Linked DNA regions of Homo sapiens: regions 2, 3 and 4 are each reported to be linked to region 1. Evidence: microRNA targets listed by miRTarBase, many of them from high-throughput screens and not tested one by one. Region 1 holds a microRNA gene; each other region holds the end of a gene's coding sequence.
What was found. Region 1 holds the annotated microRNA hsa-miR-340-5p (UUAUAAAGCAAUGAGACUGAUU, at 1,701-1,722, opposite strand). A microRNA usually pairs through its seed, bases 2 to 8, with sites in the 3' UTR of a target mRNA and lowers its output. Matches are read on the target gene's strand: a 7mer-m8 pairs with bases 2 to 8, a 7mer-A1 pairs with bases 2 to 7 and ends in A, and an 8mer does both.

Region 2: miRTarBase lists CERCAM as a target of hsa-miR-340-5p. The part of its 3' UTR that is shown has no 7-base or 8-base seed match.
Region 3: miRTarBase lists TNS1 as a target of hsa-miR-340-5p. The part of its 3' UTR that is shown has no 7-base or 8-base seed match.
Region 4: the mRNA of KCNK1 is a reported target of hsa-miR-340-5p. Seed matches in the 3' UTR shown: 7mer-A1 at 2,154-2,160, 7mer-A1 at 2,072-2,078, 7mer-m8 at 1,933-1,939 and 7mer-A1 at 1,798-1,804.

The regions. Positions count from the first base shown.
Region 1 is chr5:180,013,661-180,016,660 of GRCh38, forward strand. It overlaps MIR340 (microRNA 340), which reads right to left and starts at 1,737; the gene lies at 1,643-1,737. All of the region lies in intron 2 of RNF130 (ring finger protein 130), which reads right to left.
Region 2 is chr9:128,435,476-128,438,475 of GRCh38, forward strand. It overlaps CERCAM (cerebral endothelial cell adhesion molecule), which reads left to right. Exons shown (of 13, transcript NM_016174.5): 12 at 178-430; 13 at 1,374-1,872. The coding sequence ends at 430. Among named protein-coding and RNA genes, the nearest start is that of CERCAM, 16 kb to the left of the region's middle.
Region 3 is chr2:217,801,793-217,805,038 of GRCh38, forward strand. It overlaps TNS1 (tensin 1), which reads right to left. Exons shown (of 33, transcript NM_001387777.1): 33 at 1-2,811. The coding sequence ends at 2,667. Among named protein-coding and RNA genes, the nearest start is that of DIRC3, 13 kb to the left of the region's middle.
Region 4 is chr1:233,670,861-233,674,106 of GRCh38, reverse strand. It overlaps KCNK1 (potassium two pore domain channel subfamily K member 1), which reads right to left. Exons shown (of 3, transcript NM_002245.4): 3 at 1,593-2,836. The coding sequence ends at 2,577. Among named protein-coding and RNA genes, the nearest start is that of MIR4427, 48 kb to the right of the region's middle.

The DNA.
Region 1 (3,000 bases):
CAACATCATGGTAGATTTACACTGTAAAACCTTTTCTATTTTAAAATGATCTTCAGAAAGTCTTAATTCCTTAAGAAATGGAGTAAAGTGCTGTTTTTATAGCATAAATTGGTACTTCTTGCACTAATCTAGGAACATTCATGGAGTACCCACTGTCTGTAGAACTAGTGCCAGGAACAAAAACAAGTACAGGATACCAAGCTTTCTAATCTCACTGAGACAGGGGACACACAGCTGGTAACAGAGCTACAAAGTGCCAAATGGTGCCACCTTTTATTAGTGACATCTGAAACTAACTTGGGTCTTATGTCCAGACTTGAGTGGAGTTGAGGCTCCTTGCTAGTTTACCCCAGAACTCTTCTGGAAATCAAACGTTCCAGAGACAGGTCCAGGCTTCAACATTCTGGACCAGTTTGGCATCGAAATACCTCCAGCCTCTAACAGTTGTCCAGAGGTCTGCCCACAAGCACAGGCTATGCAAGTTAATTACGAGGACAGTCTTAAGTTGCCTTATAGTTACCTAGACCTTTCCCCTACATAATTTCCAGAAGTAGTAACAGTGAAGGAATTGAATACCTCTTCCTATGGACAGCAGGAAACTGCTATCCCTTTCCTCCTCCACAAAGGAAATAACTTCCCACTGTCTTTTAAGGAAACAGAGAAACTTCTATCAATCTATCAGCGATTGTCCTTTCATAAGCTGAAGCTGCCGGTGGCAACATGTAGCTTCTACATTTGCCTTCTCCAGAGAGCCCCTGAGAGAGACTAGGGGTCATTAGAAGGGAAATAAATATTTTATTTTGGGAAAGAGAAAATTATAACCACTTATTTGAATTTGAATAAGGTTTGTACATATCAATGTAAACCAACAAAACAATCAAGCAGAAGTCCCCAAAACTTGTCCTTTTCAATCCTTCTTCAATGAATAACACATTGAAATATTTGGTTTTACATGTTTCATTTACCATATTTAGCTAAAAGAACCATCTTTGTGTTACATGCAGTCACAGAAGACTACACGCAACTGAAAAGAAATTCAACAGGGCTGGGCGTGGTGGCTCATGCCTATAATCCCAGCACTTTGGGAAGCCAGGGCAGGTGGATTGCTTGAGCTCAGGAGTCCAAGACCAGCCTGGGCAACATGGTGAAACCCTGTCTCTCACAAAAACAGGAACATTAGCTAGGCATGGTGGCACATGTCTGTGGTCCCAGATACTCAGGAGGCTGAGGTGGGAGGATCACTGGAGTCCAGGAAGTTGAGGCTGCAGTGAGCTGAGATCACGCCACTGCACGCCAGCCTGGGTGACAGAGCAAGACCCTCAAAAAAAAGAAGAGAAATACAACAGTAAAAGGAGTTTTATGGAAAATGTAACCCAATGGAACATATACCTTTTTACTACCTTACTCAAAATTGTTACAGCCACTTTATTAGAACAGCAGTTTACCAGAATACCGATTAAAAATCTACAAAAAACTATAAAATTAAAGCAAGCAATAAACATCTAATTAATATCTAATTACCTTTCTGAAATAAGAGTTGTGATCAGTAAATTAGAGACAATCACAAAATAATGCTAAACCGCTTTAAATTTCCCTTTAGAAATCTCTTAAAATGTTGTTCAACGGGCCATGATCTGTGGTATAAGATACCAGGTATGGCTATAAAGTAACTGAGACGGATCCCACAAACGACATATGACAATCAGTCTCATTGCTTTATAATCACACCAGGTACAAACGGTTTTAGAAATCAGTTGAGGCTCCCTCTTGAAGACTCAAGCTGGAAAAGGAGTAGGGAAAGGAGTAGGGAAAGGAGTAGGGAAAGGAGTAGGAAAGGAGTAGGGAAAGGAGTAGGAAAGGAGTAGGGAAAGGAGTAGGAAAGGAGTAGGGGAAGGAGTAGGGAAGGAGTAGGGAAAGGAGTAGGGAAAGGAGTAGGGAAAGGAGTAGGGAAAGGAGTAGGGAAAGGAGTAGGGAAAGGAGTAGGGAAAGGAGTAGGAAAGGAGTAGGAAAGGAGTAGGGAAAGGAGTAGGAAAGGAGTAGGGAAAGGAGTAGGGAAAGGAGTAGGAAAGGAGTAGGAAAAGGAGTAGGAAAGGAGTAGGGAAAGGAGTAGGGAAAGGAAAGCTGAACAGGTAGCCAAGGAAACCAATCCATGTGATTCTATTCAAAGAACACTAAATAAGAACACCAACTAATTTCAACGGGAAAGCTGTTTGGGAAAAGAAGTGTGTAATTATTTCAACCATCCATTCAACAATATTTATTGAGCACATACTATGATCAGGCTCCTTTCACCTCTTAAAGAGAGTAGAAAATTACCTGCTCTTGATGCAAAAATCCACACGCCCTCAGGAGCAAAGGGGGAACCTTTTGGACTAGGAAGAGAAGCCGCTCGCGGTGGCGTCATTACACCAGCACAGAGAAGAGCCGGGCAGAGGAGCCCGACCCTGCCGATCGGGCAGGAGGACAGCAGAACGAAAGCCCGCCACCAACTTGCAAAGGACTGGAGTTTTAGGTCTTAAATCTTTTACAGAATCTGGCGAAAGTTATATAGGAGTCCCCTCCTAGGAGAAAGGGCCTTCTCCCCATACTCCACCCCTAAAGCCTGATAGGGCTCAAAGACCCTGACCTAAAGCTGCCTCAGACACTTGACTTTTAAGGATCTGAGGAGCTCTGGCCCAGTTTCACGCCAAAGGAAATGTAGGCTTCACAATAAAGGGCCGGTCAGAGGAGGCAGTGACTGAAAAGAGTGAAGAATAATTAGACTGTAACGCTGTAAATATCAAAGCACATTTGGGACATGCCCCACCACTCCCATGTCCCAGGCCCTGGGCAAACACTGCTAGTAAGTCACGGATGCGGCCACGCTCCCACGCACTTCCACGTCTGGCCGCCAGTACTAACTGTCAGAGATGGCAATCCAGTGAAAGCCCATCTGTGATCCCTGCTTCCAACTATTTTCTTGAGAAACTTCCCCCACTGTTATTCTTTAACAGGAACTTC
Region 2 (3,000 bases), not on the chromosome of region 1:
TGTTTCCTCATCTGGAAAATGGAGGTAGTAGAAGTCCCACTGCTCAGGGCCGCTGTGAGGACTAGATGGCGGGGAGTGAGGTGCTTTGGGCAGGCAAGGTGCCTGGCTCCGGGCAGGCATGTGTCCGGGGAGTAGGGGCCCGCCTCAATCCCCCTGAGCTATCCTCTCACCTTACAGCGAGCAGTACAAGGCACACTTCTGGCCACGGGACCTGGTGGCCTTCTCCGCCCAGCCCCTGCTCGCTGCCCCTACCCACTATGCCGGGGACGCCGAGTGGCTCAGTGACACGGAGACATCCTCTCCATGGGATGATGACAGCGGCCGCCTCATCAGCTGGAGCGGCTCCCAAAAGACCCTGCGCAGCCCCCGCCTGGACCTGACTGGCAGCAGCGGGCACAGCCTCCAACCCCAGCCCCGAGATGAGCTCTAGGTGAGGCCAGGGCGGGAAGAGGCCCCAGCCCCGTAGACCTTGGCTTGCTCTCCCCTTTGATGGCATAACTGTGTCTGGGGCTGTTTTCCCCTTCTCAGCCTTCTCTCTCCCTCTCCATCTCTAGCTTTGCCTTTATGTTTGTTGTTGTTGTTGTTTGTTTGTTTTTTTTAGACGGAGTCTCGCTCTGTCGCCCAGGCTGGAGTGCAGTGGCGTGATTTTGGCTCACTGCAACCTCTGCCTCTCGGGCTCAAGAGATTCTCCTGCCTCAGCCTCCCCAGTAACTGGGATTACAGGCACCCACCACAAGGCCTGGCTAATTTTTCTATTTTTATTTTTATTTATTTATTTATTTTGAGATGGAGTCTTGCTCTTTTGCCCAGGCTGGAGTGCAGTGGCATGATCTCAGCTCACTGCAACCTCTGCCTCCCGCGTCCCGGATTCAAGCGATTCTCCTGTCTCAGCCTCCCGAGTAGTTGGGACTACAGGCGCCCACCACCACGTCCGGCTAAATTTTGTATTTTTAGTAGAGACAGGGTTTCACCATGTTGGCCAGGCTGGTCTTGAACTCCTGACCTGAGGTGATCTGCCCGCCTCAGCTTCCCAATGTGCTGGGATTACAGGCGTGAGCCACCGCGCCTGGCCTTTTGTATTTTTAGTAGAGACAGGGTGTCATCATGTTGGCCAGGCTGGTTTTCAACTCCTGACCTCAAATGATCCAGCCGTCTCGGTCTCCCAAAGTGCTGGGGATTACAGGCGTGAGCCACTGTGCCTGGCCTCTGTGTCTGTCTATAATTGTACCTTCAGCTGTCTCCGCATCCCTCTCTAGCTTTTTCCCTCTCTGTCTGTCTCTGCCCCTGTTTTCCTATATCTGTCAGTGTCTGTCTGTCTCTGATTCTGTCTGACTCTAATTCTCTTTCTCTTCCTGCTCCTCCTGTCCCACCAGGTCCAGGTGATGACTGCAAAGCAGTGTCCAGGAGCAGGCCACTACTGCCCAGAGAGCAGAGGAGGAGGTTGTTGGCAGGGACTGCAGATCCTGTCAGACCTGGCCACCACCTTGGGCATGGCCACTCTGCCCTCTGGACCTGTCTTTCATCGGGAGAAACCACTCAGAGATGGATCCCATTCCCTAAAGGTCTCACAGCAAAGGAGCAGGACTCCCAGGCCCCTGTACCCTGCCTGGCCTGATTCAGGGCCTTGTGGCCCCCAGCTTCTGTTTCAAGCTGGGCAGACCCCAGGATCCCTTCCCTCCCTAAGGACTCAGCTGAGGGGCCCCTCTGCCCCCTTCTACCTCCACCTCAGCACCCTCCCCCAGCTTGATGTTTGGGTCTCCCCAGCACCCTCCTCCCTGGCCGGTGCAAAGTACAGGGAGGTAAAGCAGGACCCTTGCAGACATGTTGCCCAGCACACAGTAGGCCCTCAATAAAAGCCATTTGCACTTTAAATATATATATGTATGTATATATATGTATATATATATATATATATATATGTATGTATGTGTATGTGTATATATATATATATATATATATATATATATGTATGTATGTATGTATGTATATATATATTTTTTGACACAGGGTCTCCCTCTGTTGCCCAGGCTGAAGTGCAATGGCGCAAACCCAGCTCACTGCAGCCTCAACCTCCTGGGCTCAGGCAATCTTCCTGCTTCAGCCTCCCATGTAGCTGGACCACAGGCACATGCCACCATGCCTGGCCACATTTTTTTTTGTAGAGACTGGGTTTTGCATGTTGCCCAGGCTGGTCTCAAACTCCTGGGCTCAAACAATCTATCCACCTCGGCCTCCCACAGTGCTGGGATGAGAGGCGTGAGCCACTGCACCCTGCCACTTTATATATATACATATATATACACGTATATACGTATATATACACGTATATATACATATATACGTGTATATACACGTATATACACATACACGTATATACACGTATATACACATACACGTATATACACGTATATACACATACACGTATATACACGTATATACACATACACGTATATACACGTATATACACACACGTATATACACGTATATACACACACGTATATACACGTATATACACACACGTATATACACGTATATACACACACGTATATACACGTATATACACACACGTATATACACGTATATACACACACGTATATACACGTATATATACGTGTATATATGTACACATACGTGTATATACATGTATATATGTATACATACATATATATACATGTATATATATTTGTTTGTTTTTAAGACAGAGTCTCGCTCTGTCACCCAGGCTGGAGTGCAGTGGTGTGATCTCGGCTCACTGCAGCCTCCGCCTCTTGGGTTGAAGCGATTCTCCTTCCTCAGCCTCCCTAGTAGCTGGGATTACAGGCATGTGCCACCACGCCCAGCTAATTTTTGTATTTTTACTTTATATTTTTTAACTCATGGCTGAGCCTCTGCATCTCAGCTGGCCTGGGAGGAGGCTTCCTGATCTATGGTTGAGCAATTGGAGGGACAGAGAGGGGAGGACAGGTGAGGAGTCAGGCCGATCCAGCATCACCTCTGTGC
Region 3 (3,246 bases), not on the chromosome of region 1:
ACCCTTCCCCATCATTCGCCTTGAAAAGTCACACTCTCAGAAACTGACTCCTTCCGCAGGGATGCTGGGAGGGAGTTACCAGCTTTCTGGCATGAATGGGTCCTCCCGCAGGGGCACACATGGCTCAGGCTGGAGTGGAGGGGCTGGCCATGCATGCAAGGTGGGCTGTGGTGGGTGGTGAGGAAGGGAAAAGCGACCGTGAAAGCTGACCCCAGACTCAGTCCTGGGCCCCAGCCAGGCTGCTTGAAGGGTCTGATACACCGCCCAGCCTCAAGTGTGGACAGAACATCCATGCCAGGAATAGGCTCCTGGGCTCTCCAGTGGGAGATGAGATATTTACAAAGGAAGGGGATGGGAAATATCTCCTATCTTGGAAGATAATTGGGGTTTGCTAGGGAATGAGGAGAGGGGGAAACCCAGATATTTGGCTTGAATAACCCAGAAGGAAGAGCACTTTGGAGGGACTTTGGTCACCAGGCACAAGGTTTCACTCTGGGAAGCAGGGGGTGGCCAGTGGGGCCTCTGCCCCTGCTCTCCACCTTCTGCAGACACCCTCCTTTCCAACTCCCTGAAACAGAACGTCCACACTGACACAGCTCCTTGGAGGAGAAAAAATACAAAAGACACACACGCACCTATGTGTGCCATACACACCCATGTCCCCGCATGCTCACACACTCGCTCAGGCCTGCAGAGTCAGGGACAGCTCCCCACACATCCTGGGAGCTGACTGCTGGGCCCCTGGCTTGCTGAAAAGTAAGGGGGCCAAAGGCTGGGACATGTGCAACCCCTCCCAATGCTGAGCCCCACACAGTCTAGGGAAGGCCAAGGCCAGGGCAAGGAGACCCTGGCTGCTTCAAGAACAAAGGCCCCCTACACTTCAGGCTTTACTTACACATATAAAAAAGGATAGGAATTGGTTTATCCCCAAGGAAGGCAATAAAGCAATATGGAAAAACAATAAATACTTCTTGTCAATTTACCTATTCTTTTTTTAACCTTTTCTTACATTTTATTAGCTTACAGATTCTGTCAGTATGTCTCATGTATATATTATATAATATTTATATATCAGTACAATGCCTCTCTCTAGGGGACTCGCATAGGCTTAAGAATGGAGTCCTGGTGAATTTTCCATTCTGGCTTAGAGTCCTTAAATGGTGGTCAGGTGTTTTCCCAACTGTCCAGTGGACCTTAGGCCCTTTGGCCCAAGTGCAAGCCTTCTGCCCTCTGCTGCATGGGCAGCGTGGCTCAGCTAGGGAAACCAAGGCAGAAAGGGTGACAGTGAGGCTTTGGCATTGTAGGTAGGCGATGTGGTGTGCAGGCAGCAGGCCCAGGAGCTCTGCTGAGGTCAGAGGGTGCCTGCAAAAGCCAGACCCTAAAACACTTACAGAGGGGAGGATAAGGACTCCAGGTTTCTGGCCGGAGCCTCACTGAGCAGAAAGTAGGTTCCCCAGGGAGAATTCCAACACAGGGACCCTGCAGAATAGAACAGGGCTGGGCAGAGCAGCAAGACTCAATCCCCAGCCCCCAAAAAGGCATCATGCAGGTAAGCAGGTCTGAGATAAGGCTGGTCCAGGGGCATGAAACCCAATAACAAGGCTGAGAGGTGGGAGCTAAGGCAGAGTCCAGGGCCCCAGCAGGAGCAACTTGCCTTTCTTGCTGCTGAGCCACATGCCTTGGGGAAGACACCCCGAGCTCAACAGCTGCCTGTTCTGACAGATCTCTTCCTATGGATACACATATCTCTACCTCCTCAAACCAAAGCTCCAGGCTTCTGGCCAAGGCAGGACAGGGCGATGCCATTGCAGACCCTCCCACTCCTGCTGGGGTCTTTGTAGAAGAGAAGGGTCTGGCGGCACCCAGGGTCACTAGAGTGCAGGTGCAGGCACCAGGAGAGAGCCTCTGTCACCCATAGCTTGGTTGTTTGTCCCTCCCCTGCTGCACTGCCACCACCAACCCTAATCTTTGGACAGTATGCATGTGTGTCTACAAACACATGGGACAAGGACAAGCCGAGCTGTTTATAATTCGAGTGGATAAAGGCAGATCTAGATCAATGTGTGAGGATGTGGGTGCAGACACACACCCACACGACAATATAGTGGAGGCACAGCAAAGAGACCTGAGGTGCCTTGGGTCTGAGATACTTTCAAGCAAACAAGTTCTTCCACTTGATGTCCCACGGTGGCTCTGTTTGGTTTGACAACCTACCCCACAGGTGGCCAGAAAAAGATTCTCCCAGCTTGATTTCCCCTTGCAAAGCAGTTGAGTTAGGGAGACAGAGCTTTTCCATTCCCCCAAAAAATGTGGATTCCCAAGGAGGTTTGTTCCTTCTCTTTTGAGGACATCCATCTTCTTAGGGGAGGGAGGGGGTGTTAGGTGGACCTGGTTAGTTTTGGAGGCTTTGGGTTTTTGCAGTTTCCATCTACCCAGGGGAATCCAAGTTCTTCTCCTCCATCTTTCTCTCTCTCTCTCTCTCTCTCTCTCTCTCTCTTTTCCCCCTCCCCTCTGCAATTCACTTCCCTCTCCCCACGTTGCACTTTCTTCTCTCCTCCGAAATTGGCCCAAAGTCCTCCTTCTGGGTTCAAGAGTGGTCAGGATTCATGGGTCCCCTCCCCACAAGCCCCTTCCCCATGGCACTGGCCCTGGGCAAGGGGCAGGGTTCATCTCTTTTGGCCGGCATTCAGCATGACCTTGGAGACGAAGTTGACGATGGCAGAGGCCGGCTGGTTGGGGTCAAGCTCAGCAAAGAGGTGGCAGGCGTTGTCCGTGGTGCTGCCCTGCTTCCGGGCCACGAAGCCGAAGAGCCTGCAGGCGGGAGAGGGCAACGGGCATGAGGGAAGGGCAAGTGGAACCCCAGGAGGTGGACAGCAGCCCAGGTGAGCAAGCTGGTCTCAGGCCAACCTCTCTTCCCCATCCCTCCAGCAGGCCTCAGCATCAGGGACTCAGAGAGGTGCAGAAGAGAATCCTCTGTGCACTCCCCTGACCACAAGCCAAGTCCTAGAGACAGTGTCCCACCTTGTTTAAGGGTGGGCAGAAATCCCCTTTGAAGGGGTGCGAGGGGAGCTGCAGAGGATTGACAAGGCTGGATAGTGAGGGGTGGGGAGGAGACCAAAATAAAATGGGAACATTCCTAGACAGGCCTCTCCCCGCCCATCCCAGCCCTACCCCTACTGACTGTTCTTACACACAACACATATGCCAATCAGGAAAGTGCTGTCTGCCTGCAAACGGCTCAGCCTC
Region 4 (3,246 bases), not on the chromosome of region 1:
GCAGGCATCTTAGGAACTCAATCTTGAAGGCTCAAGCTAAGCAAGTGAGTTCAGCTTGTACTCATCACCCAGAATTCTCTAGTAGTCACTTTTACCTCCAACTTCCCACTCTCTCGCCTCCAACTAAAGGGTTCCCAAGGTCAGTTCTGGCTTAGCTACACTGTTCATCTTCCACCTCCTTGTCATGCCTGCAGCAAGCCGAATTTCTGTTCTCTGAGAGGCTGACCCAGAGCTCCTCCTGGGTGACCAAGCTCGCTTCTCCCTGGGGACCAAAGGGCAGCATCATCGGCCAAAGACAAAAAGAAACCCTGGGGAAGACATCCTCCCTTACTTTCCTGCCTGCTAGGGTGGGGGCCGAGGCAAAACTTGCTCCTACTTTTCTACTTTGCCCTTCACATTAACAACAATCTGAAGGGCATTAAGGTTTAATGTGTTCTCTGCGGATTCAAACGAGTTCCTAAAATTAAGTACTACACTCTATTACTTATTAATCACATCTGATTCAGAAGTTTTTCTTCACGTACTTCCTCATTTTCTGGACTTTGAACTTCCCTCTCATGTTAGAGCCAAGCAGCTGTAGCAAACTAGCCATTATTTTTTCCTGCATTGCATAAAATAGAATAACACTCTCCAAGTGTAATCCAGCTTCTGTGATTTATATTGATGAGCATCTCAGGACTCTGCTCCACACCAAGGCTTGTGACCATCGGAAATGTTGCAGATCCAGTTATGGCAGGATGCATGCCTCTATTCTCCAAGGATTCTCTATTCTACCCTTAACCAATGATCTGGCCTCATGACAGCAGTCTTCTATTGCAGGGACATGGTCAGCAGGGAGGAAATATGCTTACGGGGCAGCACACTTGGATTCCTCTAAAAATCATATACTATCCCTCTAAAATCACCTATATTTTTCCATCTCCCTGTCCTCTAATCAGTAAGATATTTAAGCATGTGAACCCCTATTGAGATATTGGACAATCACTCTGTAATTCTTTCTGTGTGCATGGTAGTTAATAAATGTGTATGCCTTTTCTCATTAATCTGCCTTTTTGTGAGTTGATTTTTCAGCAAATCTTCCGAAGGGTAAGGGGATGCTTTCCCTTTGCCCTGCAGTTGGTAATAATTTACTCATGGCAGCACATGGTACAGAAGGTAGAAGGTTACTGAGCGAGTGACCCACTGTCAGGAGACTGGCCCGCGATCAAAGTGCTTGGCTGGCTCATCAGAGGGCGCTGATTTTGCACTGATTTTTACCAGCCCCTCAACCACCAACTCCTGGGCAGCCACCCATGGGAGGTAAGGCTCCATTGCGGGGGTCAGTGGACATTCATTATCACACAGGGGCTTTCTCATTTTCTTTTCTAAAATCCTTAATATAATAGTATCCTGTGTACGTCATCTAAATGTGACCTTTATGTTTTCTATGAAGGACTATATATATATATATACGTATATATATATATATATATACACACATATATATATATATACATATGTATATATATACATACATATATATATGTATATACACACACATATGTATATATATTCTACATAGAGGCACACTTCTGATATATGAAAGCATAAGATTACAACCAGCTGTGATTTTTATTTATTTTAGCTTCTAAATTTAAAATTCTCAGATTAATGTAACATAATCTGTTCATTTAGGGATTCGTGTTTAAGTTCTATGCTTTAGTGCTAGGTGGCTGCAAATCACAATGTACTTTCAAAACAAAGTATCTTAACCTTTTAATAAATCCTTTTCATAACCTGTTCAATTCAAAAAAATGTTTATAAACATGTTAGACATCTGACACCATTCTATCGCAAGAGGGTAGAAACATTTATTGCAGCAGAATACTATGGTTATTCACTCTCAAGTTTATTATTCCCCTTATTTTATTGTAGCAACTCTGGATTCTTTAGTATAAAGAGAAATCAAAAGAAACAAAATATCTATAGTCTTAGTTTCAGAACTACACTAGGATCTGGTGACCTAAACCATATGTACAGAATATAAACATATTTATACTTTATATGTACATAGTTAATGGTTACCTATGCATTATAAATAGTAAGTTTAACTTAGATTCTACAAAAATAATCATTTTGGGTGGGTACATGCAAACCAGTACACATAAACCTATTTATAAAACACATCTCTATGCTTTTTTTTTTTGCTTCTAAATATAAATTTTGCTATTTAGCCATCAGCTAAATGATCTAAATGCAAACCCCAAAGTTTCCAGTTAAAAGTATAAAATCTGCTTCTAACCACAGCAGCATACTGCTTCAAGTATTCTCCTCCTATGTAAGGTCGAGATAATTTTGTCACATATGAATTTTAGGTGGACATCTCATTTCCTCACATATTAGACATCCTGCTGGGGTCACAGCTTCTTTGTTCCATTTGTCTTTTTTTGTTGTTTTTTAATAAGACATTGCAAACAGTAGCTATTTCTTAAAGTGACATAATTTTCGCTTTTGCATTCTGATAAAAATGAACATACTTAAGCCTCTTCCTTGCACCCTGACCCTGGTGCTCTAGCATAATGCAACAAATCCTACGCTCAATGGTTTGCAGGGCCATCCACGCAGGCAGATGACTGGGTGGCCACAAAAGGCTCATTTTGCTTCTGGTCCTCTTTCATGCCAGCTGCCTGGTCTGTGATCGAGGAGAAGGACAGTTGGTCATGCTCTATGATGTGCACCTGATCCTCGTCCTTGTCCTTCTTCACATAGAACATTTTTCTGAATTTTTTCAGCTCATGGAGTTCACAGAAGGTTTCCAGAACTACCAACATGGCAATAAGGCCAAGTAGCAGGTAACCTGTGTGAGAAACAGGACACTGTCTTAGTGTGATCTCAACATGGATAAATCAAGTAGCGAGTGATTTACCTCCCCACCTCATGCCAACACAGTGTTTGTTAAGGAATAAACTCATTGCCAGTTTCTTAATTTTTAGAAGTGTTTTTAAGTTCATGGTTCAAAGAGGAACTACCCATTATTAAAGAGTGAAAGACAATGAAGAATGATTTAACCTCCTATGAACTTGGATTAGTTAGAATCACAGGCTGCAATTTTTGAGAAAAAAAAAATACTTGGGGCTGATGTGGCATTATTAAAGACACATAACATACTGCACTTACCCAAGTGTGATATTTTATGCAAGGAGGGTTTGCCACCTCTGCTTTATAATCAGTGGCTCACAAAAAGCCAGTGATGTTTTAGAAAAGTTT